Homo sapiens: one gene and its partners. The protein of the gene in region 1 purifies or fractionates together with the protein of each later gene. This does not show direct contact. Each region holds a gene or a part of one and is shown in the gene's direction. Other genes may lie near its edges.

Evidence for each region.
Region 2: the proteins of NELL1 (region 1) and EGFL7 purify together in Homo sapiens (affinity purification with mass spectrometry; 2 studies listed by BioGRID and IntAct, with this or other methods). This does not show direct contact.
Region 3: the proteins of NELL1 (region 1) and NICOL1 purify together in Homo sapiens (affinity purification with mass spectrometry; 2 studies listed by BioGRID and IntAct, with this or other methods). This does not show direct contact.
Region 4: the proteins of NELL1 (region 1) and EMILIN2 purify together in Homo sapiens (affinity purification with mass spectrometry; 2 studies listed by BioGRID and IntAct, with this or other methods). This does not show direct contact.

What each region holds. Positions count from the first base shown.
Region 1 is NC_000011.10:20,924,566-20,931,589, forward strand, and holds part of NELL1 (protein kinase C-binding protein NELL1 isoform 1 precursor), read left to right. Parts: intron 1-2,147; exon of another isoform or gene 2,148-2,231; intron 2,232-2,742; coding exon 2,743-2,877; intron 2,878-3,811; coding exon 3,812-3,914; intron 3,915-7,024. UniProt on the Homo sapiens protein: Plays a role in the control of cell growth and differentiation. Promotes osteoblast cell differentiation and terminal mineralization.
Region 2 is NC_000009.12:136,658,921-136,665,937, forward strand, and holds the start of EGFL7 (epidermal growth factor-like protein 7 precursor), read left to right. Parts: upstream 1-3,995; 5' UTR 3,996-4,158; coding exon of another isoform or gene 4,159-4,188; intron 4,189-4,487; 5' UTR 4,488-4,703; intron 4,704-5,768; exon of another isoform or gene 5,769-5,771; coding exon of another isoform or gene 5,772-5,865; intron 5,866-6,847; exon of another isoform or gene 6,848-6,897; intron 6,898-7,017. UniProt on the Homo sapiens protein: Regulates vascular tubulogenesis in vivo. Inhibits platelet-derived growth factor (PDGF)-BB-induced smooth muscle cell migration and promotes endothelial cell adhesion to the extracellular matrix and angiogenesis.
Region 3 is NC_000004.12:2,038,059-2,044,476, forward strand, and holds NICOL1 (NELL2-interacting cell ontogeny regulator 1 precursor), read left to right. Parts: upstream 1-3,936; 5' UTR 3,937-4,010; exon of another isoform or gene 4,011-4,117; intron 4,118-4,268; coding exon of another isoform or gene 4,269-4,293; coding exon 4,294-4,426; intron 4,427-4,677; coding exon 4,678-4,766; intron 4,767-5,802; coding exon 5,803-5,868; 3' UTR 5,869-5,906; downstream 5,907-6,418. UniProt on the Homo sapiens protein: mRNA-binding protein which interacts with a range of target mRNAs including SERPINE1, ACTA2, CCN2 and COL4A1 and may promote extracellular matrix production.
Region 4 is NC_000018.10:2,842,615-2,850,008, forward strand, and holds the start of EMILIN2 (EMILIN-2 precursor), read left to right. Parts: upstream 1-4,391; 5' UTR 4,392-4,574; coding exon 4,575-4,708; intron 4,709-5,194; coding exon 5,195-5,317; intron 5,318-7,394. UniProt on the Homo sapiens protein: May be responsible for anchoring smooth muscle cells to elastic fibers, and may be involved not only in the formation of the elastic fiber, but also in the processes that regulate vessel assembly. Has cell adhesive capacity.

The sequences.
Region 1 (7,024 bases):
CCTGGATTTTAAGAAAGCTCAGATAGATATAGAGTTGCCTTTTGGGCCATTTAGTCCTTAAGAAGTTCCCTTCTTGGAGTGATATAGACACCAGAATTGTTCCAGATTTTCAGAGTAAGGCACGTATGGGTCCTCTCACAAAGGTACACAATTCTGAGACCCTTTTAGGAGGAATGCAGATCTGGTTCAACTCTGTTGTTCAATCCAAGGTCATATATCTGTTACTGCCTTGTGTAGGAACTACTGGGGCTATGGAAATGAAGTAAAGATAAGTGATAAGTTGTTACTTTCTTTCTATTGAGGTTCCACATCTGTGGATTCAACCAACCATGGACCAACAATACTCAGAAAAAAATTCCAAAAAGTTACAGAGAGTAAAACTTGAATTTTCCATGTACCGAGTACTGCATTGAATCCATGTGAATGAATTGATGTTTAGACATTGTATTACTTATTATAAGTTATCTAGAGATGACTTAAAGTGTATAGGAGGATGTGCATACGTTATATGCAAACTATACTATTTTATATAAAGGACTTGAAGATTTTCAGATTTTGGTATCTGCAAGTGGCCAAACCATATGCCATCATCCCTCAGTGTCCAAGAGTATCACCAAACTCAGCAGTGTATTTTATCCGTTTCCTAAAGCATTGCCAAATAACTTAATTATCATAGATTCTATAAACTCTATGATTAGGCTGGAGTTTTGTTGTATTAATTTATTTATTTATTGAGATGGAGTATCGCTCTGTTGCCCAGGCTGGAGTGCACTGGCATGATCTTGGCCTGCTGCAACCTCTGCCTCCCAGGTTCAAGAGATTCTCATGTCTCAGCCTCCAGAGTAGCTGGTGGTACCCGCTACCACACCCGGCTTTTTTTTTTTTTTTTTTTGTATTTGTAGTGGAGACAGGGTTTCGCCATGTTGGCTGGGTTGGTCTCAAACTCCTGACCTTGGGTCATCTGCTCGTCTTGGCCTCCCAAAGTGCTGGGATTATAGGTGTGAGTCACTGCACTTGACCTAGGCTGGAGTTTTAAATGAAACATGGATTTTTAGAAGATCATGCATATTAGAAGGAGTGATAGGAAGCTAATATTTCAGGCAGCGTCAACTCTTAGTTCTTTAGGGGCTGCTCATGGTGCATGGTGGTTGGTCTAAGATCCTATTTTTTGTTTTTTCTACCCTTTGCTACCACCCACAAAAGGCAGACAAGGGGTAAATTTTCTTGAGAAATTCCAAAAGCTTGGAGGAAGAGGATGAAATAAATGACAAAAACAAAGGTTAGAATTACATGTGGATTCCATTTCCAGAGAGTAGTTCTGGTATGAGTAAGTCAGAGGAAGGTGTATGAAATGGAACCATAGTTAATGTAGAAAGATGGTGGAAGTCATTCCCTAGGTTTATCTATTATGTCTAAAATAGTGGCTCAAAATAATCTTAGTTAGATCAAAGGTTGAATTGATCTCCTGTATGGGGAAAGTACTTAAGACATGAAAGGATAAACATGATTGAGAAGGAAAAGAGAAACTCAGATAATTTTCTAGGAAACGATACTTGTTTTTCAATCATGGTGGTCTCTATGTAAGGGAAAGGAAAGGAAGAGTAATATCACTACTAGGTTGAGTTACTCTTTCGTGTGGATGTGACAGTAGACAGATCATATCAAAGTGCTGTATTTAGGGTTTTTTTGCACCATATTTTTGAAGGTAAACTGGAGTAGGCTGTATGAAAAGTGATCAGAAGAGAGGCTTGGAATCATATCATGAGGAGCTGTTAAGGGAACCTGGTGGTGCCAAGTGTGGTCAAGACGACAGGATAACCTCAAATGCTTGAAGATTAGGTTTGCTCAGGATGGATTACAATGAAAACCTAGGTATGGCAGGAAAAAAAGAAAGATTTCACAGCCAAAACCATGAAAAATGTTTCAAACAAGAGAGCTAACTGAGAAAAGTGGCTTTCCTTGGAAGATAATACATGTTCCTCCACTGGAGATGTACAAAGGCTAGATAATCACTTGAGGTTTCTTGTGAGGATATTCAAGCTTTATAATCCCTTTCCAGCAGGAGAGTCTAAGACTCTGTGATTATTGGCAATGACTGGGTGGCCTAGAAAAATAAAAAAGGTTATTTTACAAAATTCTGATCTTACCTGGGGTTTTGGTTACTTTTCCTGTCCTTCTTCTAAGCACAAAAGTGAATTCCTGGGGCATTCTGTTTGGGGGATCCGCTTACGACTTTTCTTTTTTTCTGACCCCAGCTCTCCAGAATTTTTCATCAGACAGAAGGCAGTGACTTCCTAGTTTGTAAACCACGACATTCTAGTTAGTGTGTGAAGAACATAGAGAGGATAGTGGGAGATAAATGTAAGTGCCTCGGAGTTCCTGATTAGATCGCCTGTAAACATCATAATGAGTCCTTGAGAACACATTCATTATGAGTGTTTTTGTGTGGGCTTGAATGGAAAGCACACACATTTATGAACACCCATGAGGTTCCTGAGTTACAGTTTAATGTCTCATTTGGTATTCATTAGACCATGACAGCCAATATTTCTTCAATTTAGAGTGATTCCACCTTGTGTAAAAAAAATAAAAAAAACAAAAAACAGATAATGCTAAGAATCAGTGAACTGCTCTGAGCATTTTTTTCTCTTCTCAGAAGGATTTTTTTTCTTGTTGCTATTAGCTTTGTTAGGATGATGCAATTGAATTACAGAAATTACATTCAGTAACTCTTGTTTGCAGCTAAATTATGCAGAGACAAGACTTAGTCAATTGGAAAACTGTCATTGTGAGAAGACTTGTCAAGTGAGTGGACTGCTCTATCGAGATCAAGACTCTTGGGTAGATGGTGACCATTGCAGGAACTGCACTTGCAAAGTAAGCCTCTTTGTAAATAAATACAGTAAAAACAGTTTTAAGGGGAGAGGTTTGATAATTAGAGTGTAACCTGGTTCTTTAATAAATAATATTAACTCTGAGAATTGTTAGGTTTTTACCTAGCACCCACTAGCCATACGAGCAATTGTGAAGCAATGCTGGAAGAGTGTCATGTCTTATATGAATACTTGGAAATTAAAATCTGCTTTCCCTTGCCAACACACCCTAATTTGATTTAATAGGCAATGTTTGGAGTTTGAAGGTTGGGATATAGTGGAAAGAAGGGACTCCTTTGATTTTCAAACAACCTAATGGTTATCCTTATTCACAACCAGAATAACTTTAAAAGGGGAGTTTAATTATTTTCTACATGTTTTTATTGTCTTTTGCAAAGTGTATCCATCACCTGTTTCAAATAATTGCAAGGCATTTCCTCCCTGACTCACTGTCAGTGTGAGGATATCCATTATTTGTATATCCCTTCATCTGTTTCAGTGAATTACAACATCCCCCTCCAAAAATTAGTATGGAAACCCTGTCCAGTTGAAATTACTTGATAAATATCTGAAGAATGCCATTGTTTGTCTAGGAAAATACAAAACAGATTGTTAGAGCCTCAGAAATGATTGACAGAGTCTGCAAATGTGTTATTTATGTTCTTATAAAAATAGACTTTTTGTTTTCTGCATAATCTAGTTAGCACACATGGGCAGGTAGGATGAAACCAGTGATGTATTTCAGAAAAGTAATTGAGGTGGTACAGGTCATTCGGGCCGGAGAAAACACTTCATCTGTGGTCCTGGAGTGGACTGGGAATTCGAATACTGCTTCTGTTTCCCTGATGAGGTTTCTGGGATGAGATTTCAATGATCTCCACAACAGGAGCTATCAAAGGATACTTCTGAGATTATGTTCCATGTCCTTCCTTCCTCAGAGTGGTGCCGTGGAATGCCGAAGGATGTCCTGTCCCCCTCTCAATTGCTCCCCAGACTCCCTCCCAGTGCACATTGCTGGCCAGTGCTGTAAGGTCTGCCGACGTAAGTACTGACTGAGGGTCAGACTGGCTGTCTGTGTTTTGAGATTTATTTATTTATTTTCCCTGTTTTTCTGGACTCAACTGATTGACATTGATGAAATGAAACATTGGCAGTTGATGTAACATTAAATATATGGTAAGAAGAGCCACAATATTTTAATCACTTGCAATGTGGCAGACACTTAACATGGGCTATTTTTTTTTTTAAATCCTCACATCACCTGTAATTACTATTCTTCTTTCATTCTATGTGGAAGGAACGTGTGTTCACAGGGATTAAGTCACTTGTCCAACAAGTGGGTGAGGCTGATCTGTGAATTTACAACTCCAAAGCTCCATAGGCTTTAGTCCCCTCATTCTAAATGATCAAGTTAAAGGCCAAATTCTGTATTTTGGCTTTCTGAGGTTTTGGCTAGATTCTCCTCTTATTAAGAGGCCTTTGTTAGGAACTTCCGGATGAAATTCAGTTAAAATACTGAAGCTGTCGTTTAGAACATGTGGTATGTTCCATATACTGTGCTGGATGCTTTAAATCTACTAGCTTAGTGAATTCTCACAGCAACTCTTTAGGGAGGTATTATTATTATCCCTATTTTACAGGAAGCTGAGGCTTAGGGATATTAGCTTACGAAAATCATGAGGCTGGTGAGTGGCAGAGGTGAGACAGAAAACTAGTTCTGTTGACTACAAAGCCCATAGCCTTTTTATCAGTCCATATGGTCCTCTACAGAAAAGGAGAGTTCTGGTCAGAAATGTGTGCTATGGATAATTTTCAAGGTCATTTATTTACCAAAAGAAACACACCAATGTCAGTAGCCTTCAAAGCACAGTGGTCTATCATTCTGCCAGGAACAGCATGTCACCTATTATGACACTGAAAGTGGGAATAGCAGTGAAAGTGGGTTGCAGCAGCCCAAATAATTGTTGAACTTTTCAAAAAGGAACTTTGTAATCTTCCTTTTTTTTTTTTTTATGGTTGGCACACTGCACCCATTGCTCTGGGGGATGTACTTGGAGTTGCTCTAAAGAGAAGAACTTTCTTATTTCTGTTTCAAGAACTTTTGGAAGTCATGTCTGGCAATATAGGCAGCTCAAGTGTCTGGATATTGAATTATAGTTTGATCCCATGATGGAGAGAGTTGTTAGTAGGTACAGATTATTTGTTTTTATTCTTGACATTCTTCAGCAGAAGAAGTTGAAAAACTATTAGGGGCCAAGCACAGTGGCTCACGCTTCTAATCCCAGCACTTTGGGAGGCCGAGGCCGTCGGATCACCTGAGGTCAGGAGTTTGAGACCAGCCTGGCCAACATGGCGAAATCCCGTCTCTACTAAAAATACAAAAATTAGCTGGGTGTGGTGGTGGGCACCTGTAATTCCAGCTATTCTGGAGGCTGAGGCAGGAGAATTGCTTGAACCCGGGAGGCAGAGGTTGCAGTGAGCTGAGATCGCGCCACTGCACTCCAGCCTGGGCAACAGAGTGAGTCTGTCTCAAAAAAAAAAAAGAAAAAAAAAAAAAGGCTATTAGGGATGTATTAAAAAATGTGAGATGTTTTAGTCTATTATTTAGAGTTCCTGCATAGATCTCTGAATGCCATCTCTTGAAAGTTGTTGTTTGGACATGGAAGTAATGAGTCCTTCGGCAGGTTTGTGTCTTAACTTTTTGACGTTTTTTTAAAATTATAAAAGCACTGTGCTTTTGGCTTAACATTTTGAAAACACAGAGAATCATAAAGATCAAGATGGAAAGTTCACCCATAATAGCTCCACTTAGAAACACTCTTGAAATTTTAGTGGATGTGTCCTTTTTTTAAGAAAAATTACATTTTGTGTGCAGTTGAGGTTGTATTGTGTGGGCAATTTTTTATTCTAGTCTGTTAACTTGCCATTGTCACTTAAATATATTATTATGTTTTAAAAACTTCTGCATAAATGTCATTTTCATGAGCTTCATTGTTTCCCATTGTTTGGCTGTTGCATAACTTTTTTTTAACCAGTCCCAAGTCATTGATATCTAGATTGTTTCCCACTTTTCACTATTATAAAGCACGCTTAAATAACATGTTTTGTATAGAAAACACATTTTTGTATATTTTTGTATTTTATATTTCCTGAAAATAGAATTCTTCAGGCCAGAATTACTGGGCCAAAGATGAACATTTTCAAGGCCCTGGATACATACAGTTAAATTGCCCTCTCACTAGACGTGTGTGGGACGGTCATTTTTCTTTGTGCTAATTTGTTTGATAGTTTTAGGTTTTTAAAATTATTTCAGAAAATAACTCAATTTTATTAAAATGTTGATACACACACTAACTAAAACATCAGTTTTTTTTTTTTTTTTCCCTTTGCATGGAATTCATAGCAATTTAGTTAGGTAGCACTAATTTTCTCACAGCTCTGATTGGTAGTTTGATGTGTTCAGAGTTTAATAAAGTGGGAATACAAATAAATTATTAAAACACTATTCTAGACAAACTTAAAAAGAAATGATACAAGGCACCTCTGGTAATTAAAAGGTTGAGAACTTCTGGGCTGGAGGGCTTTCATTTCTCACTAGTTTTTAATAGAAATATGCATTAGGTGATTACTGAGTACTGATGCCTGGAATAATGATGAGGGATCCTTCCCTGCTTTAGAGGAGCTCACTTTCAAGGTAGAGACGTGGTTTACAGTGTCTGGAACTGTAAGTGCACTAACATTAGGCATGTGTTGGAGTACAGAAGAATGGCCTGGGAGGGAGGGGGAGAATACCGGGGGAAGGCCTGGGATGCTTCCCGGAGGACATGGAGCCAAGTTAAATATTTTGAACCTTCTAGAAGTTGACTTTTGTGGGTTAAGCAGTGGGGTGGAGAAGAAGAGAATGAGGATTGCTAGAGCAGAGTTCTAACACTAATCAGTGGAATTTCTAGATGTTTCCAATGTCTTCACATCAGAAACATGGTAGAGTATATTTACTTTGGTTGTCCCTTTTAAATATAAGTATGTGAGGTAATGCATATGTTAGTTAGTTCTTAGCCATACCACAGTGCCTACGTATTTCAAAATATCATGCTGTAGACCGTAAATATGCATACCTTTTGTCAGTTAAAAAATAATAATAAAATATAAAA
Region 2 (7,017 bases), on another chromosome or scaffold:
TCAGCTGGAGCAGTGGGCAGCCCCAGGAAGGGAGACGGGAGCGGCCAGGGGAAGGGCGAGGGGTCCCCCGGGCGACCCCCGAGGCTCAGGCGCCCGGACTCCAGTCCTGGGCCTCCGTTTTCCACCCTTGAACAAGCGGCTTCCACCTGTGAGCCAGCTGCCTCCTCTGAAAATGGAAGCCCCTCAACTCAGAGGGTGTCGCTCTGGGACGTGGGTCAGGGGCCGGAGCAGGCAGGGAGAGGTGAGAGGAAAGGCTGGGGACCCTCACTTCTCCCTGCCCAAACCCTCGCTCGGGAGCAGACGGCTCCTCTGCCCGCAGGCACCCCTGCCTGGCAGCTCCCTCCAGCCCCCGTCGGGTCCGGGACGTCCTCTGATGGGAAGGTTCCACCACATCCGTGGCTGACAGAGCCAGCCCGTCCGAGGCCGGGGGGCGCTCGGGGTAAACAGGAAGCCCCATCCCTCCCGCACTCTGCTTCACTCCCTCCTCCTGCACCTCCTGCAGCCCGGCTCCCGCGGCCGCGCCTGGTGCCCCTCTGTCTCGCGCCACCTGAGATGCCCAGGCTGGCCTCTGCCAGGGGCTTAGTCTGCCCTCTCCTGGGGCTTCAGAGGCCAAAAGCACCCTGGTGAGGGGTCCGGGAGGCCCGGGAGGGCCCGGGGGGCTCTGCCAGGCCCCTCCACGCCTCTCTGCCCAGCCAGCACGCTCTGGGAAGGTAAGGCAGCCCTTCCCCTTATAACTAACCTCAGAACATTCCCAGGTGGCTGGAAGGCCACTGGACAACATGGCCCTGCTGACAAGAGAGACAATGGGGAAACTGAGGCCTGTGTGGGGCACAAAGCTGGGACCAGAGCTCCAGCTTCCTGCCCCTGCCGGGCCTCCACCTCTGACACCACCCCAGGCAGGGTGAAGCCCTGGGCTCCAGACCTTCCAGTGCCCAGATGAGGACAGGCGCAGGCCTTGGGGTGGCCACACTCTCCCACCAGGTCTCCCCCTCTGTGCTGGGCCCCTGAGGTGAGGGGAGGAGGCCAGGCGTGGGGCCCGGCCTGGCTTCTGTGGGGCTGGAGCCTGGGCAGGAGGCACTGCTGACTCCCAAAATGATTCCCTGCTGAAGGTCTGTGCCATGATCCCAAACACACACCACCAGAGCGGCCAGGGCAGGGAAGGGGGCACCTCCAAGGACCGGAGGGTGAGGGAGGGGCCCGCCTGCCCCTTGCTGAGCCCCTGGGCCTTGGGCACAGAGTGTGCTCCACCCATACCAGAACCCGGGGGCAGCCCCAACCCCCTGGACCCCCAGTACCCTCTGGCGTCCAAGAACCCATGTCTGTCCCCTGCCAACCCCCCGCCCCTCCTGTCCCCGCTGGGCCCCCGACATTAGGGCAAGGCCGCAGCCCACCTCCTGTACCTGCCTCTGAGGCTCCAGGAGCCCAAGAGAGTGGAGTGCCCCTCCTGTGGTGGCTCCAGGCTATGGGATAGGGCAAAGCTGGCACTCTGGGCCTGAGCCCAGGCCTCCTTCCCTTGGGGAGGGTCTAGTCTTGGCCTGGGGAGGGGCTGGGGGCAGGGCAGAGCTTATCAGGAGGGGGTTGCAGTGAAGAACAAGTTGGCAGCAGGCGGTGCCCAGCCCCCCAGGCTGTCACCCAGGAGTCCAGTGCCAGGAGGACAGCCTGGGGAGGACGCAGACTCTGCCCTCGCCCCTTGCCTGTAAGCACAGCAGTCAGTTCACCGGGAAGGCCCCCAGCGGGCCAAGCCTTAGCAACTCGTGCACTCGGCTACTTAGCTATTCCTGCCCCGAGCTGTCCCCTGGCCGGATAGGTCTGATGACAGGGGCTGCTCCAGGTTGGGACATAGGACAAGCTGGGGTGGGGGACATGGGGCTCCCCAAGAAGAGGAAGGAAGGGTGAGGCAGCCTCCTGTGCCGAGCATCCCAGCCCTGTCCGGCCTCCAGGCTCACCTGGGCCGGTCACTTCTCCCTCTGGGCCTCAGTTTCCCCCTCTGTACACAGAAAGGGCTGGATCTAGCCCACCCCATGCTTGTGGGTCCTTCCACCAGGAGGCCAGGGCAGATCCAGGGGCATGCAGGTGGGGGAGGAGGGGGCAGGCCGCAGGGATGCAGGCAGAGGGCAAGAGGGCACCTCCTGGGATGGGGGCACAAGCCTACTGGGCCCCTATACGGTGGAGTAGCTAAGTAGCCGAGTGCACGAGTTGCTAAGGCTTGGCCCGCTGGGGGCCTTCCCGGTGAACTGACTGCTGTGCTTACAGCCAGGGGCGAGGGCAGAGTCTGGGTCCTCCCCAGGCTGTCCTCCTGGCACTGGACTCCTGGGTGACAGCCTGGGGGACTGGGCCCGGCCTGCTGCCAACTTGTTCTTCACTGCAACCCCCTCCTGACAGCTGGAGGGACAGGCTGGCCAGGGCAGGATGAGCCCCTGGGTGGGAGAGCCAGGGGGCCGAGGGAGGCACAGGGCGGCTGAGGGTGCAGCCAGTAGGGTAAGGGCCAGATCCCAGGGTGGCCTAGTGTGGAGGAGGTGGGGAAATGGGGTTCTGCCTATCTGCTCCAACCTCAGGGCAGGGGCCACCTCTGGAAAGAGGCCCCTCCCGCTCAGACCAGCGGTGCCTGGGTGCCAGGAGCGCCCCCTTAAACCAGCTCAGTGACCATGAAGCAGGTGCAGAAACAGGCCCGGAGAAGAGTGAGGTCCTGCCTGGCTGAGGCCCTGAGCCCTGACCACAGCCTGGCGCCCAGAGCAGACCCTTCCCCTGGCCGTGGGTAGAGGGGAGCTGGTTCCTGCTTGAGGGGGAGGCGCATCGCGTGTGGGTGAGGTTTCCACCTGCCCTCCAAAGTCCCGTGGGGAATTTCCCCAGCTGCCCCAGCCTCCCTTGGCTCAAGTTGCCCAGCTGAGTGGGGCTGGAGAGGTGGGGGCACACTGACCGCCCAGGGCCAGGGAAATGGGGGTGTCCCAGGCATCAGGCCGACAGGGGCTGACCCCAAAGCAGGGCTCACACCCCACGGACAGCGGGGTTGGGAGAGGCCCTGCTCTCCTGGGGTTCCAGGCGTGCCCTCCAAAGCCACCCAGCTCCCTTCGGCACCGTGTCCCCTCCCACCCAGCCCACCTTTGCCACAGTGGCTCGCTCGGCCTGAGGCTCCCACTGCCGTGTGAACAGGGAAGATGAGGGTCAGACCTGGAGGCTGGGACGCCGGGAATCTGACAGAGCACCCCCTGTGATCACCCACAGTGTCCCGCATCCCTCCCCACACCCCCGGCCGCAGCCTGCTGCCAGCCCAGAGCACCCCTGTGAAGTGGGGCTGAGGGCATTGGGCCTGCTTGCCCATCTCCAGGGCAGGGGCTCACAGCCTCACTGGCAGCTCTTTTAGGGGAGAGAGCTTGGACTCCATGCTTGTCCCCTCCCGTCACCCCCTCACCATGGGCCTCAGGGACCCACGGAACAGGCTGTTCTCGGACCGCTCAGCCTGTCTTGCCACCCCAGTCCCTTCCTGCCGGGCCTCGCCACTCGCCATCCCTCACTGGTCAAGGCTCCTGTGTGGCTGGTCCCTGCCTTGGCCTGGGGCCCCTCCAAGCTCCCGTGCTGTGTCACACACATCTGGGGGTGTCCTGGGGGAGGGCCCAGCATCCTTGGCCCAAAGATGCAGCAGCTCCCTTCTGTCCAGCCACACGTGAGCATGGCCTGTGAACCCACGGTCCTGGGAGGGCCCTGGGCTTGCGTCCTCCACCCCACACTCTCCCCAGGGTCTCCAGCAGGGTCCAGCCCTGGTTTCTGGCTGTTTTGGGGCTAGACTCTGATGGCCCAGGGGACGGCTTCCCCACCCCTGGGCAGTTTGTCCAGGCCCCCTCACACGGTGGCCCCCACCCCCCTCAGCCTCCTGTTTGTCCGACGACACGTCCCCGTTATCAGCGGAGAACACACACAGGAAGTCCGGCTGGGAAGGGCCCATCCCAATCCCGATTACCCAGGACGGAGCATAAAAAGCCGCCCTTCCTCGCCCGGGGGGAGCCTCCCTGCACCAAGCTGGCCCTGCACGGCTGCAAGGGAGGCTCCTGTGGACAGGCCAGGCAGGTGGGCCTCAGGAGGTGCCTCCAGGCGGCCAGTGGGCCTGAGGCCCCAGCAAGGGCTAGGGTCCATCTCCAGTCCCAGGACACAGCAGCGGCCACCATGGCCACGCCTGGGCTCCAGCAGCATCAGGTATGGCAGGGGTGGCCTCGGAGGGGCAGGGAGCGGACAGGGCGGGCCCCCCATTCCCCTCACTCCCGCTGACCGTGGCGCCTGCTGGCTGCTCCGCAATCTGCTCCCCAGCGAGGTCACAGGGGAGGGGTCCCAGTCTCCTCCCCTTCTGCACAGAGGAGGCCACTGAGGCCCCTTGGCCAAACGCCTGCTAGTGGGTGGCCCAGCGTAGATCCCAATCCAGTCTGCTGACTCCAACACTTCACCCCCAGTCGCCCTTCCCCTGAACCCCACCCTCTGGCCTTTCTCTCCCTCCGCAGAGCAGCCCCTGTGGTTGGCAGCAAAGTTCAGCTTGGCTGGGCCCGCTGTGAGGGGCTTCGCGCTACGCCCTGCGGTGTCCCGAGGGCTGAGGTCTCCTCATCTTCTCCCTAGCAGTGGATGAGCAACCCAACGGGGGCCCGGGGAGGGGAACTGGCCCCGAGGGAGAGGAACCCCAAAGCCACATCTGTAGCCAGGATGAGCAGTGTGAATCCAGGGTGCGGGACGTGGGGCTCGGGCTTAGGGATGACTTGCTGGGTGCGGTGGGCAAATGGGTGACTCTGTGGGCCCCCCTTGGACCCTGGAGACGCCCTTGTTCTCCCTCTCCCCAGCCTCATGCAGAGTGGCTGAAGCCCCATCCCAAAGCCCCCAAAACCACAGTGGGTCCTAGAAGGCCCCACTTTTTGTCTCATACGTCCACACCAAGAAGCCTGTCTGAGAACCCCCACTTTCCAAATGGTGCCTAGCCAGGATGGGGGCAGCGAGGGCTGAGTCGGGGCAGCCCTGGAGCTGCCCTTTCTGCTCCATCGCCTCTTCCAGACTCAGGCAGGAGAGGTGGGGAGGCAGGTCAAAGGGTTAAGTGACCGCAGATCCAGAGATGAGGCCAGGGGCAGGGGACAGGGAGGGTGGCGGTGGCTCTCCCACCCAGAGGCCCCCTAGGCCCCACTCTGAACACTTCACTGCTGGGGGCTAGGTAAGAGCTGCCCTGCGTGGGCTCAGGGCGCCAGGAGGCCTAGGACTCCCCAGTCAGATGAGGAACGCCCCCTGACAGCAGCTGCTCTGGTCGTCCCTTGGACCACGTGCCAGGGGCTTCCAGGGCCCCTGGTCCAGAGCAGTGGCCACTGGATTGCAGGGTGGGGCGGCCTCATTTTGGGGACTCCTCTCCAGGGACCTGGGCCCCTCCCTTCCTCCAGCTCCCATGCACCAAGGTAGGACCAAGCTGGTGGCCCTCTCGGACCCATCTGCAGGCCCCTTGCCCAGCACCCTGGGTTACATGGAGAGACCTCCAGCTCCACTCACAGCAGCCTCCCATCCCCATGCCAGGGAGTCCAGGGCTGGAGGCAATAACCCCATTTTACTGAGGCCAGGGGCTGCGGATCCGAGAGGACAATCAGCTCAGGACAGGATGGGGTCGGGGTAGGTGCAGGACAGGGGCCTGTAGGCCTAGTGCAGGCGGAGGTCCCACAGCAGCACCGAAAGCTGGTCCCGGGCCCCTTCCCAGCCCCCAGACATCAGGGTGACCAGGACTGTGCATAGGCACTAACCCACAACTCCTCTCCAACCAGCAGCCCCCAGGACCGGGGAGGCACAGGTGGCCCCCACCACCCGGAGGAGCAGCTCCTGCCCCTGTCCGGGGGATGACTGATTCTCCTCCGCCAGGTGAGTCCCAGCAAACCCCTTGCTCCGAGGGAACACTTCTCACACCGGCGCCCACGCGGGTTATGACACAGGGCGCTGGCTCCGGCTGGGGTCTGAGGGGCTGCTGAATTGGGCTGGCCCGAGCCCCACGTGCCGCGCCCGCAGTAACAGCTGTAACAATTGTTGTGTGGCCACGACCTCACCGTCACTAGATCCCAGGGCTGTTTAGCCCCATCTTATAAATTTGGAAATGGAGGCCTGGAGAAGAGAGGTGACCAGCCCAGGGACCTCTGGTGTGAGGAGACTCTCTGGGGGCCTGTGGATTCGCTGGGAGGAGTGTTCTGCGATGGCCCTGACTGTGCTGAACTCAGCAGTGACCCAGTGACCCCGGTGAGGGTGCCTGATGCCTGAGAGAGGGCCAGGTGGGGGCCGGCGCAGGGGCCCCCAACCTAACACGCTAAGGCTAGGAGGCAGGCCTGGGCTCTGCCATGTGGTCTCAGAGGAGATCTGGGTCTCTGGGCCTGCGGTGGGGACGGTCATGATGCCCACTGCCTGCGAGGCTGCAGGACCCAGCTCAGTGCTAACCTGCGCCGGGCGCCTACCGCGCGGCCCCCCAGCGGCTGAGATGGGCGTCCCGGGGTGGTTTTCAGCCTGGGGGGCTTGAAAGCTAGCAAAGGGCCCGCAGCCCCGTCAGTGTGGGCGCCCTGGGCGGCCTCTCCTGGCTCCTGGCGGCCGGGCTTGGTCGTGCGTCCCCAGCGACCGCGCAGCGAGCGCCCTGCCGCGGGGACTCGGGCCCCAGGATTCCCGGAGGGGGTGCTGGCGGGCCGCGGCTCAGAGGCGCGTTTGCGTCAGCCCCGGGTTCCAGCAGAGTCACTGCCCGCCCGGGGGCAGCTCGTCCGCCGCGGGGCCTCAGTTTCCCCGTCTGCGCAATGGGGGCGGGGCGGGGCCGCCAGGTGGGGCGGGGCCGGGGGCGGGGCGGGGCGGGGCTCGGGGCCCCCACGGCGCGGGCTCGGGCGGCAGTGGCGGCGGCGCGTGCGCGCCCCGGATCCGGCGGTGAGTGCGGAGCGAGCGGGGCGCGCCGGGGTCGGGGTCCGGTCGCCGCCCGGGCTGGGTCGAGGGCGGGACCCGCGGAGCCCCCGGGGGCGGGGAACCTGGCCGCGCGCGGAGCTGGGG
Region 3 (6,418 bases), on another chromosome or scaffold:
ACCTATGTGTTATTAAATTTGTGCATTTAAATTTCCAAACATATGGAAGTTTTCACTTATATTTTTGTTATTATAAGTAATAATTACATTGATTTGTAGTTAAAAAAATGATCTGTATGATTATTTGACATGTTTAAATTATTTGACATGTTTAAAGCCTTTATTAAGTGATCAGTGTGTATATATATATATATATATATATATATATATATATATATATATATATAAAATTAAAATTTTTTTTCTGGAGACAGGATCTCACTCTGTTGCCCAGGCTGGAGTGCAGTGGCACGACCATGACTCACTGCAGCCTCGAACTCCTAGGCTAAAGGGATCCTCCTGCCTCAGCCTCCCAACTAGATGGGATTACAGGCATGCACCACCACATTCAGATACTTTTTAAAATCTTCAAATCTTTTGTAGAGTTAGGGTCTTGCTATGTTGTCCAAGCTGGTTTTAAACTCCTGGCCTCAAGTGATCCTCCCGTCTCTTATAAGCACAAGCCACTGTGCCTGGCCTAATTTTTTTAAAATTAAACATTCTGCATATACTTAAACAGAATGTATTCTGAGGATACAGTGTTCAATATATGTACTCAATTAGATAATGTTTTGTGAAGCATTCAAATCTATATCCTTACCAACTCATTTCCTGTTTGAATAATTATCAGAAAAAGCACGTTAAAATATTACACTATAATATTGAGATTAATTATTTCTTCTGTACTTCTGTCAATGCCGCTTTCAATATTTTGAAGCTTTGTTATTTAGTGTCTTGCTATATCACAACCCCTTTTGACATCAGTACCTAGAACTGGGTTAAAATGTTTGCCTGGATTAGGGTTAGTTTTCAATGAAAAATCCTCAGCTCTGTCAACGATCTTTTCATCACCTGGGAGTTTATATCAACATACAGTTTTGGTATCAAAATCAAAGAAAGCATTAAATAAGCGAAATGTGTGAATAACACAAGTGAGATTTGTGCAAATTCATTTTTTTTAAATGATGGTGAGCGTTGTGCTTGTCCTCTTGTTGGATTCACGAAATAGAGTCACTATCAAAAGAATACATTATGGCTGAACTCGGTGGCTCATGCCTGTAGTCCCAGTACTTCGGGAGGCCAAGGCGGGTGGATCGCTTAAGGTCAGGAGTTCAAGACCAGCCTGGCCAACATGGTGACACCCCATGTCTACTAAAAATACAAAAATCAGCTGGGTGTGGGGGCAGGCACCTGTAATCCCAGCTACTTGGGAGGCTGAGGCAGGAGAATCGCTTGAACCCAGGAGGCAGAGGTTGCAGTGAGCCAAGATTGCACCACTGTACTCTAGCCTGGGCGACAGAGCAAGATTGCGTCTCAAAAAAAAACAAAAAACAAAAAAAAATTACAGAGAGACCTGTCTCTAAAAATTACAAAATGGTTCTCACCTATAAAATATTGACATGTGATAGTTCAAAATTGCTTGCTAGAAATTAAAATTACTAAGAGTTAAACTTAGGCCAGGTGCAGTGGCTCACGCCTGGATTCCCAGCACTTTGGGAGGCAGAGGCAGGTGGATCACTTGGGGTCAGGAGTTCGAGACCAGCCTGCCCAACATGGCAAACCCTGTCTCTACCAAAGAAAAAAATACAAAAATTAGCCGGGTGTGGTGGCACGCACCTGTAGTCCCAGCTACTGGGGAGGCTGAGACAGGAGAATCACTTGAACCCGGGAGGTGGAGGTCGCAGTGAGCCTAGATCATGCCACTGCACTCCAGACTGGGTAACAGAGTAAGACTCTGTTTCAAAAAAAGAGTTAAACTTCTAATTAATATATATAATTCTGTATATAAAGTGCACCAAAAAGATGTGTTTTATGAGAAAAATTATAAGAAAGGCACAAATATGTGTTATTTATTGAGAAAAAGGAATAATTTTAAGGTTATTTCAAATATGGATTTAGGAAGGAAACAGAAACAACATCCAAAGGAACCAGCAAGTATGACAGAGAGAGAGAGACAGAGATGAAGACAGTCATGGGAATGAAGATGCATTTTTGGTAAGAAATATACATATATATATATATTTTTTGAGATGGAGTCTCACTCTGTGGCCCAGGCTGGAGTGCAGTGGTGTGATCTCAGCTCACTGCAACCTCTGCCTCCTGGGTTCAAATGATTCTCCTGCCTCAGCCTCCCCAGTAGCTGGGATTACAGGCGCGTGCCACCATACCCGGCTAATTTTTGTATTTTTAGTAGACACGGGGTTTCGCCATGTTGGCCAGGCTGGTCTTGAACTCCTGACCCCAGGTGATCCACCGGCCTTGGCCTCCCAAAGTGCTGGGATTAGATTGTCCGTGGGCGCGACTGTCCGTGGGCGCTAGGGGCAGGGGTGATAGGAGCAGGTCGCGAGCGGGCGCAGCGTGGGACCGAAGGGGAGAAGGACGCCTGCGGCCCGGCGCGTCCCCGGAGGCACGTCCCCCCCAGGGCTCCGCGGCCCCGGCAACAGCGCGGGGCTACCCCTCTACGGCTCCCGCCCCACTGGGGGACCGCGACGGCCTGCTCCCGGGCTCTTGGCTCCGAGTGGAGAAGAGCGCGGAAGTGCGCACTAGCCCGACACTCGGGAGGGCCGCTGCCTCCCCAGGCGCCTGGGACAGCGGCCCGCAGCCCCCACCCGGCCCCTCGGGCCCCGCGTGCGTTTCAGCGCGCTGAGGATGCAGCACACCCCCGAGGTGCGACCGGGTCCCCGAAGCCCGGCGTCGGCCCAACCCGGAGGAGGCAGCGGCAGTCACGGGCACGCTTCCCCAACCCACCCTCCCACCCACTCTTAGGGTCAGGACACCCGCGTCCGGCCGGGGCAGGGGCGGCTCTGACCACGCGAGAAGCAGGTGCGTCCGCAGTCCCAGCTTGTGCCGGGAAGACCACCGGCCAGAACCCCGGGGGTTGGGGGTAGAGGTCGGCTAGGCTGGGGAGGGGGGCGCCCGAGGCTCCGGGTCCTGCACGGCGAGCGGGGCGGCCTCCAGGTAGGGGTGCGGCTCCGCCCACCAAGAAGAGGGTCTGGCGGGAGGTGTGGTTAGTCCCTGAGCTCCCGGCCACAGCGCGGGCTGCTGGGTGGGGTGGGGGGGGAGCGGGGGCGCCAGCACCCACGTGCGCCTGGGGCGCCTTCTGAGGAGGCCACCGCCTGTGTCGGTGTCGGCGTGGGGGCCTGGCTCCGACGGCTGGGACCATCCCTCCCAGGGCGTCCGGGGCCCAGATTCGCACTTGCCGGGCGCCCCCGGGGGCCACTGGCTGCACGGCGCTCTTTAAGGCCAACAGCCCTGAGTTCACGGGACTGAAATCGGCACAGAGAGGCCGAGGACCTGTGGTCGGGGCTCCGCGCAAGCGGTTCTCCGGTCTCCGAGGACACCGAGAGGCGGAGAGGAGGACCCTGGGTTGGGGGTGGGTAGCCGGGAGGGACCGAGCAGGCTGGTGCCCACCCTGACGCCCGAGGATCGGGGAGAGGCTGGGCCAGGGAAAAGCCGGGCGAGGGCGGATCCCCCGAGCCGATCCCCCAGACCAGCTCTCTCCGGGCGGTGCGACCCCACACTGGACCCCACTCGCCCGCGGTCGGAGGCCAAGCGTTTGCATGCGCAGCTCCCCGCGCCTCGCGAGCATCGAGCAGCTCCCTCAGGATCGCTCCTGACCTGCTGAGCTCCAGCCACAGATTTCCCACTTCCTCAGCTTTTCTCCCGCCGGCCTTGCGCTCTGGAGGTCTCGCCCCGGCGCCGCCTCCTCCAGGCAGTCCTCTAGACTGCATCCGCCATGGGCCTGGACGCTGCTCCCGGGGGCAGCCCCCGGCCAGGGCCAGGCACACCCGATTCCTGGAGCGTCCTAGGTTCCTCTAAACCCGCGGCCAGCGCAGTCTCGGGTTTCCATGACGACGACGTCGGATGGGGAACCCGGGCGGGGTCGGGTCGGAGCGCATGCGCGTTGCGCGCCGGACGCGGAACGTCTGCCGGTGTCCCCGCGCTGCTGGTCCCGGGGTCCCTGAACCGCGGTAAGGGCGGTGGTGCGGGCGTCCGAATGGGCGTTTTCTAGATACGGGGCGCGGACTAGAGGCTCGCTGGGCCCGGAGACCGGCGGACTGGAGTCGGGGAACCGGAGGTGGGGAGGGGGCTCCCGGGCCCGGGGTGGGTGGGTCCAGGGCTCCCAGGCCTGGGGCTTGGACAAGGGTCGTGGGGCCCGCGGGAGGGGACGGGGGCTCACCGGCCCGGGGCGGGCGGGGCGGGCGCCGCTGACCCCTCGCTGGCTTCAGGGCGGCCCCGCTCCCTCTGCTGGCCATGGCCCCCCCGCCCGCGTGCCGGTCCCCGATGTCACCGCCGCCGCCGCCGCTGCTGCTGCTGCTGCTGAGTCTGGCGCTGCTGGGCGCCCGGGCCCGCGCCGAGCCCGCCGGGAGTGCCGTCCCCGCGCAGAGTAGGTGCCGGGGGCCGGGTTCCGGGGAGCGGGGCGGGGCTGGCGACAGGGGCGTGCGGGGCCGGGGCTCTGCGGGGAGGACCGCGCCTCGCCTTTGTTCCCGGGAGCGGGTCCTCCCCTTCGCGGGAGATGGTGGCTTGGGGAGTGGGGACGTGCGCTCTTTGGCACTGGGTGGACGGGCCCAGAGTGCGTGGGGGCCTTGCGGGTGACCCCCCCTGCGCCCCCTCCACCCTGACCCGCGCCCCCCGCAGGCCGCCCATGCGTGGACTGCCACGCCTTCGAGTTCATGCAGCGCGCCCTGCAGGACCTGCGGAAGACAGCCTGCAGCCTGGACGCGCGGGTGAGCGCCCGCGGCGCGACGGTCCTCCCGGGCTTCCCAGGGGGTGGGGAGGGCAGGGAGGATGAGGAAGAGGCCCCCTGCGGGAGTGGAGTGTCCCTCATCCTTCACCCCGATTTAAGATGCCGCACCTTGCCCCCTTCCTCTGGCTCCAGTCATCCAAGGGGCATTCTGGGCACCTGTCTCACCTATGAGACGCCCCTCTCTCCAGCATACTCTATTTCTAGCCCCTCCCCCAGAAGGCTCTCACTGGGCACTTTGTCCTATGACCGCCACTCCTGAGGGCTGTGACAGATCTGGACCCTGGGGAAGGACTGTCAGCCCAATCCAGGATCCCCTAGGTGGGCGGCAAGGCCCCAGGGCAGAGGAGAAACTGAGGCCGGAGGATGTGGCGAAAGTGTCAGGAATGGGGGGTCAGGCTGGGCAGGGTGGTCTGGATCCTGGGTGGATGCACAGGTTGGTTAAGGCCCCTCCAAGCCTGGATGAACAGGGAGCCCCCACGCCATGGGGTGCAGCCAAGGAGTTTTTGTTTGTGCCGGGGCTCAAGCTTCTTCCTGGAAAGGGAGAATTCTAGGAAGGAGAAAGCAGGGAAGACCCTGCCTGGTCCCACCCCCCACCAGCCCTAGTGTCCTTCTTGGGAACACTCCAGAGGGCTCCGACTAAGACCTGGAGCCCTCTCCCCACTCACAGAGCCTGGAACTGAGCTCTTGGGAGGAGCAGCCCCCACCTATCCTTAGGCATGAGGGTGGCAGGGAGTGGGGGACAGTGGACCCCTGCGGGTGGTGTGGGAGCTGGAAGAAGGCAGGTGGGCACGCTGGCATGGCGTGGGCACCAGCAGACCCCAGGCAGGCCCCACCAGTGGGAGCCACTGCAGAGGAAAGAGATGAGTGGGAGGCTCTGGGTGTGGGGGTTAGAGCCAGGGCCTGACCTTGTCTGTCTCAGGAGCCGGTGGAGATAGGGCTGCCTTGGGTGGGTGGAGGCCCAGGGGAATGCCAGTGGGCAGCTGGGCTGCACCCTCACCCCTCTTGTTGCTTTGCAGACGGAGACCCTACTGCTGCAGGCAGAGCGCCGTGCCCTGTGTGCCTGCTGGCCAGCGGGGCACTGAGGACCACGCTGCTCCGTGTGAATAAATGCCCAGTGGCACGCCTGTGTCCTGTCTCTCTGTTCTGGCCACCAGAGCCCCTGCGTCGCCCCCGGCAGTCCTGGGTTGGGCCCCTCTCTGGGCTTGGGTTTCCCCAGCTGTTCCAGCTGGGCGAGCCCTCTTGGCTGCTGTCCCATACCAGTGCCCGTGCGGAGAGGTGGACACACACGTCCGACCTCAGTGACCTGTGCTTCCTCGTACCTGCTCCCCTGCCTGCCTCCCCTTGTTTTGAGGCTGGGGAAGTGTAGAAATCGGCCTGACCCCCCTGAGCCCCCAGAGCAGCTGCCCCAGGGCTGAGCCCCTCCAGGCTCCTGCACCACTGAACTGGTGGACCAGCTGCCTGAGACTGTGGGAGACAGAGGGTCCCGGGGAGAGAGGGCAGGGCCACCCCACACAGCATCATCTCCCCTGCCAGCTCCCACCTGCAGCCCTGAGCCTGGACCCTGGTCACTGGGGAGCTCTGGATGGGAACTTGATGAGGCCGTACTGCCATCCACACACCTGTGCACACAGC
Region 4 (7,394 bases), on another chromosome or scaffold:
CAGACCCAGACACTATCTCAAAAAAAAGAAAGAAAAAAAAATTGTTCTGAAGGTCCCTCTCCAACATAATGCCTATTTCAAATGGAGCTAAACAAAATTGTATTGCCCATATCCTGGCATTCCAGAACACAGAACAGGCTAGATGCTGCAGCCAGTTCATTTTTCTTGGGGATGTTTCTCTTTCCCTATTAAACTCATTGTTTTTAAAAGAAAGAAGGGTGTCTTTTATTCAAGATATCTAGTCTTCAAGAACTTTGTTTTTCCATCATTAAATAAGCAGAAAAAGGAAGCAATAAAGACACCTAAAAGTACACCTAGAAATCCAGGGGACAGTTTTTTTGAACTTTTGAATTCCAGAAAGTAAAGAGCTGAGGCGGGAGGGTCGCTTGAGCCACAAGTTCGAGACCAGGCTGACAACATAGTAAGACACCTATCTCTACAAAAAAACTGATAAAAATTAGCCAGATGAGGTGGCACGTGCCTGTAGTCCCAGCTATTCAGGAGGCTGAGGCAGGAGGATTGCTTGAGCCTGAGAGGTGGAGGCTGTAGTGAGCCATGGTAGCACCACTGCCCTTCAGCCTGGGCGACAGAGCAAGATCCTGTATCAAAAAAAAAAAAAAAAAAAAAAAGGGAAGATGAGGGATCAGAAGGGCGGAAAGACAAGGCTAATCTCATGATTCTTGACCACATCCTAGATGCAAATCAGTTCATCTTGATCAAATGTCCCCTGCGCAGATGACGGGGGTGGGGCTAGGGGAAATGTATTTGCCTGCTGCCTCAGTGATAGTCACTTTCCTTTTCCAACAGGCAATGGAGGGGGCACCTGGGTGTGCTGGAGGCCCAAGAGGCTCACTGCTTCCAAGAGAACTGTCCCTAAACACGTACAGAGCCTGATGAACATCTTACGTCATGACCCACAAGTGAATAAGAGAATGGATTGTATGAAGTAGTTCTTCCTTGAATTTTTGCTTTAGGTAAGTTGGTCACACAATCAAGGGTGTGTGTCCCAAGTTACTATGGGACACTTGTTTTTAAAGCAGAAGAAATTCCTTCAGATTGTTATATAAAATATAGTTTTCAAGTGCTCACTTAAGGTACTTGGCAGCATATAAAAAATTCATACTTGCAGCTTTCTGGCAGTCATATCCACGTTATTGTTCATGGCAGGGATCAGAAGTCCTGCCCAATTAGTCTGTTTCTTAGTGTGCTGAAGCTCTCTATCCTCCGGAAGCTTCCCTCTGTCTTGTTTCTTATGCAGGGCTCTCTGGTTCCTGAGTTTGTTGCATCCCTTCCTCCAGCTGGAGTAGAGAAAACAAAGAGGGTCTCTTGGGATCTTGGCCTCAAATCAAGAAATAACCTTGTGGCTGGGCACAGTGGCTAATGCCTGTAATCCCAAGACTTTAGGAGGCGAAGGCAGGAGGATTGCTTGAAACCAGGAGTTCAAGATCAACCTGGGCAACAAAGTTAGACCCCCCCGCCCATCTCTACAAAAAATAAAAAATTAGCTGGGCATGGTGGTGTGTGCCTGTACTCCTAGCTGCTTAGAAGACTGAAGTAGGAGGATCACTTGAGCCCAGGAGTTGGAGGCTATAGTGAGCTGTGATGGTATACAAAAAATCAGCCTGTTATGGTGGTGTGCGCCTGTAGTCCCAGCTATTCAGGAGACTGAGGCAGGAGGATTGCTTGAGCCCAGGGATATCGAGGCTGCAGTGCACCATGATTGCACCACTGTACTGCAGCCTAGATGAGAGAGCAAGACTCCATCTCAAGAGAAAAAAAAAAAACAAAAAAGTAAAAGAATGGAATAATAGGCCGGGCACAGTGGCTCATGCCTGAAATCCCAGCACTTTAAAAAGCCAAGACAGGAGGATGGCTTGAGATTAAGTGTTCAAGACCAGCCTGGGAAACGTGGTGAGATCCCATCACTACCAAAAATTCAAAAAATTAGCTGAGTGTAATGGCACACACCTGTGGTCTCAGCTACTCAGGAGGCTAAGGTAGGAGGATTGCTTGAGCCTGGGAGGTCGAGGCTGCAGTGAGCCATGATCATGCCACTGGACTCCAGCATGGGTGACAGAGTGAGACCCTTTCCCCCAAATAAATAAATAAAAATACAAAAGAGGGAAGTAACCTTCTGAAAGTCAAGAATGTTCTGTCTTCCAGGGGCAGACCCACAATAACATACATGGGCTTATGTCTAGAGAAAGACATGCAATAAACATTAGCTCACTTAGTTGACTGTCCATCAGGAACGCTAACACCCTTCATTGCATGGCAATGCCTGGAAGCTCTCCAAACACAAGCCCCGTGTCAGTTTGGGCTCACTCATGAATCCTCAGTATTTTTGCACAATGCCTAGCTTGTAACAGATGCTCAGAATGAAATTTATTTACCAATAAATGTTATTGATAGCTGATTAAATATAGTATTGTGGTCATCTCAATGACAAGTTGGCCCTTATACTCTTAGACAACTTCCTATTATAACTTTGATTTGACGGAAAAAACAGATTGACTTGATCAGTTCAATGCACTTTCAAGTTTGAGATTTACCTGTACCAGACACACATTGGAGTTGTTCTCTGCTAATTGTAGACACACACAACTTGTGTGTTTCCCCCATTTCCCCCCCTCTTCCTCTTCTTCATTTCTATACTCTGTTTCTACTCTATGAGTCTTTACGGCCAAGATGGTGTTAGGACAGGCAGGATAGGGAAGTCACACAGAAAGATACAGATTGGGTTACGAAAGACAGCTTTTTATCCCTTTCTGTTATTTCCCCCCCACGGTGGCTCTTTTGAAGGCTGGGATGACTTCAGTCCACTATTTGCATGATCTTCCGCTTAAGAGTCCAGGGACAGATGATGTCCTTACATGGTATAATGTTCTGCTTGGCCCTTGTAGTTTCTACTTAGGGACTTCTCTTTCTTTCATCTGCAAATCAAAAGGTCCAACAACACCATCAAAGAATATTAGAAACAAAATAGACCAATGGCTTCATTTAGTAAAGTAGGAACATAGCAAACGTTTTTATTTTTTATTTTTTGCGACAGATTTTCACTCTTTTTGCCCAGGCTGGAGTGCAGTGGTGAGATCCCGGCTCACTGCAACCTCCATCTCTCTGGTTCAAGCGATTCTCCTGCCTCAGCCTCCCAAGTAGCTGGGATTACAGGCATGTGCCACCGTGCCCGGCAAATTTTTTTTTTTTTTTTGTACTTTTAGTAGAGACGGGGTTTCTCCATGTTGGTCAGGCTGGTCTTGAACTCCCGACGTCAGGTGATCCACCCGCCTCGACCTCCCAAAGTGCTGGGATTACAGGCGTGAGCCACCCCGCCTGGCCCATAGCAAAGCTTTATTCACTTAACGAGTCATGGCCAACAGCGTCTGGTTAGCTCACAGAGGCCACAGTTTTATCTGTGGAGTCTGGTAACCACGCCACTCACGACCCTGTACATTGATTAGATGCAGCAGGTCATCTCAAACACACAGCTCTCTCCAACACCCCTTAGAATACAACACTTGGGTGGTGATTTTACTTAACATTCTGGTACTTCATCCCAAAAAGACATCGGTAGAGATTAGTGTAACTCAACAACAGGCAGAAAACATACAAGAAAGTTTAAGACGGATGTCTAGCAGTGCCTGAACTGTTAAGAAGCAAACGTGAGTAAATGCCTTAGTTTCAATAGAAAAAGAAAGTTCACAGTGGGACCTCAGAAGCAGAGGCTGTGAGATCACCTTTCAAGAATTGGAGGAGAATTGCAGTAAGTGATAGAGCCGGACGCTGAGCTGCAGCAGCCTCTGGGAATTGGCGGGGCTGTGGCTTGTCCTGTCCTGCCGCCCCCCGCGTGGCCTCGGAAACTGTCAGATGGTGCCTAAGGCAGAGTTGGGCAAAGAAAGAACCAGCGTTCGTTTCCTCCTGGACTCTCTAGGTCCATGGAGCTGGTGGGGGAACGGCCCTGTCTTGCCCGAGGAGGAAATTCGAGTCGAGCCCCCACTCCTCTCCCCGCGGGACTGATAAACATGTCCCTCATTCGCCCCGGGAGGCTGGCACCCAGGCACGACGCGAGGACGGCCAGACTCGCCGACGGCGGCCGCGTCCCGGGGGGCCGGGAGCGAGCCTGTCGGAAGGTGGGAGGCGGAGTCGCTCGGCATCTGGGAAGAGACCAAAGGAATGAGTCATTGGAAATGCTGTAACGTAGACCCTTATCCCAAACCCTTTCGCCCCTCCACCCCGAGCCCCCTGCCGAGAAGCGAAGGGACTGGAGACGGGGAGACTTGGTGGGGGGAGAGTCACGTTTCGGAGAGGGAAGTGAAATAAAGAGGGCGGCACCCGGGGGGACCTGTGCGTCATTGAGGGACCGGGGAGAAGCGCAGGGCGCACGGGGCTGCAGAAGGAGAAGTAGGAACGAGAAGCCGGAGGGGGCGGCCGCGGAGCACTGGTTGGAGCGCCGCGAAGCGCCCGAGCCTCTTGCCTTCGCGGGCGGCGCCCTGGCCGCCGGCAGCCTTGTGGCCGGTGCCCCGATCCGCCGCGCTCCGGACCCGGGCAGGCGGGGCGCGCCCGCTGCGCGCGGGATGTGGCAGCCCAGACGGCCCTGGCCCCGCGTGCCCTGGCGCTGGGCGCTGGCGCTGCTGGCCCTGGTTGGCGCGGGGCTGTGCCACGCCGGCCCGCAGCCCGGGTATCCCGCGCGGCCCAGCGCCAGGAACAAGTAAGTGCGCGCCCCTTGGCTGGCCCCAAACCGCCTACCCCTCCCCGGCCCCCAGTTGAGCCCCAGAGCTGCCCTGCCAAAGACGACGAGCGGCAGCCGGGGGCCTCCCTTGGACTTCCCCGGGCGGCTCCCTCTGCGGGGGACCGCGCGCTCCGCAGCCGGCGCCTCAGGCAGAGCTGACTCCGGGGGCGTGGGCGCAGAGAGCGTCCCGCAGACCCGGGCGATCCGAAAACGACTCCCAGGAATTCCATGAGCCCCTGGGACCATGGGTGCTTTTCTTTCCCGTCTTGGTCGGGTCCAGGCGCGCGCTCTCCAGAGGCGCACCCGGGCACCCTCCGGCGTCTGCTCGGTGAAGCTCCCGCCTCCGCAGAGGGCGACGGGCCCCCCCGACCCTCGCTCGGTCTGGTGCCGCAGTCCCCTCTCCCCTGGCCTCATTGTTCTCCGGGTTTACCCCGTGCCCCTCTCCCTCTCTCTCCTGCACCCCAGGAACTGGTGCGCCTACATCGTGAACAAGAATGTGAGCTGCTCCGTGCTGGAGGGAAGTGAGAGTTTTATTCAGGCTCAGTACAACTGTGCCTGGAACCAGATGCCCTGTCCGTCGGCGCTGGTGTAAGTCCTGGAGCCGGGGAGCGGGCGGGGCGCGCCCGGGCCGGGGCGGTGGGGGTGGGGTGGGGTTGCTGCGCTGGGCTCCAGTCCCTCCGGTAAATCCCTTCCAGATCCGGTGAAAAGCCCGCAGCGGAAAAGCGCTCCGAGCGCTCGCGGGGCACCGGCCACGCTGGGCTATTTAGGGAGTGGGTGCTGCCCGAGTGAGTGGGGAGGATGCGCGCGCCTCGGGAGTGTGGGGTCGCGGGGGCGTAGGAGAGGATGAACAAAGCTCCCACTCCCACTTCTGTTTTCTCCCTTTCAATGTTTGTTTGTAACATAAGGCAGCTGAATCTAATTGGATCCATATTGTGTGTTCTGGGGCACACAGAAGATTCCAAAATGTATACTGCTAAAGACTATTCCGTATAGGATTCGCTGAGAGGTTTGGCTAAGTAGTGTTCTAAAACGAGTGAGTTCTGTCCGTATGTCCCCATAAAACGGAATCTTCCAGTTTTGTAGATGTCTAAGCTAAAACCTCAGGAACACTTTGCTTAAAAGTGTGGCTCCCCAGCATCCCTCCCCGCAACTTAGATTTGGAGATTCTCTAGAGATTGTGGGAGAGAATGGCCGTTAAAGACAGGGGGAAGAATTAATCATCTTTTTGCTTATAAAGATTTCCCCATCTTAAAAAAAAAAAAAAACAGGAAGCAATGCAATAAAGTACAAATGCCGTTAAATACATGACACTCATTCAATTGTCATCAGGCAAGTCTTTGGGGGTTTTGTATCAGTCTGATACCGGAAGATGGGCCAGTGTGAATAAATGGCTGTTGAGGAACACATGTGATGGCTGAAATTAATTGTTTTCCACTAAGAATAAGTTGTTTGTCTTAGAGCACAGTTGTCATTACAGCAGAGAATAGTCAGTAGGCGGATCTGTCTTTGGCAAAACCAAGGGACAGACTGGAACTTGTACTCCAGGAAACCTTATTCCAGAGAACAGTAGATGAGCCTGTAGTCTTATGGGAAGTGGTCGCTGGGTCCACCCCACGTGGGCTTCTGGAGGAGCTGCCAACAGGGTTCAGCTAATTCCTGCTCGGCAAAAACAAAGTAAAACAAACAGAAACTTAGACGAGGTCCCCATTTCCTAATATACAGTGGAAAACGCTGAAATTGAATGCCCAGCTAGGCTATCTCTTTGAGTTGGATACATTGTCAGAGAGATAAGGTACTGTCATCCAACCTTAATCTCTTAGTAAGATTGAGACCTCATCGTCTATGGCCAGCAGTCAACGACATCAGAACCAAGCAAGGTTTTTACACTGTGGGAGTGATACAAACTAAGTATTCAACTCAGTTTGAATGCATTTGTTTAAAATTAGAATTGAGTTATTAGTCAGGAATATTTTATTCATCTTATACAAGAACTGCATGGTGTGGCTTGCTATAACCTTAAAACTTACTGGTGACAATTCGGAGATAAATGAATTTTTCATTTTGGGAGGTAATGCATTTTTGTTTAAAAGATGGCTTGTTTTTATTTTCTCAAATTATTTTAGCTGCTTGGAAAACCAAAGGATGATTTAATTGTTCTATTTGACCAAAACTCAGTGAAACTTGGCTGTCAGTGGGGAGTGAATCGCCTCCAGATTGGCAGGTCAATGCAAGGCAGTGGGAGTGCATTTTTGCCACCCAGTGAGTAGGACAACAGAATTATTATAAAAAATGACAGATGTTTCTGTTGTTTTATTAAACAAAGCCAAAATAAGTGACCTGGATGTTTTATTTCAATAATAACCATATAAACAATACAAGTGCATTTTTACATTTTAAGTACTGCACTGTAAGTGTGAAGTTTAAGAAACAAAGACTGAGTTGATGAACCTGAAAATCTTGACATTAGCTTCAGCAGTAAATTCAGTCTTGACTTTTTTCAGTTTCTTTAGGGATGGAACAGAATGGTTTATCTTATTTTTCAACTGAGGAATGCTTCCTAAGATTTCTTTTTTGTTTTTTGTTTTTTGTTTGTTTTGTTTTGAGACAGAGTCTTACCATGTCACCCAAGGTGGGGTGCAGTGGCGTGATCTTGGCTCACTGCAAC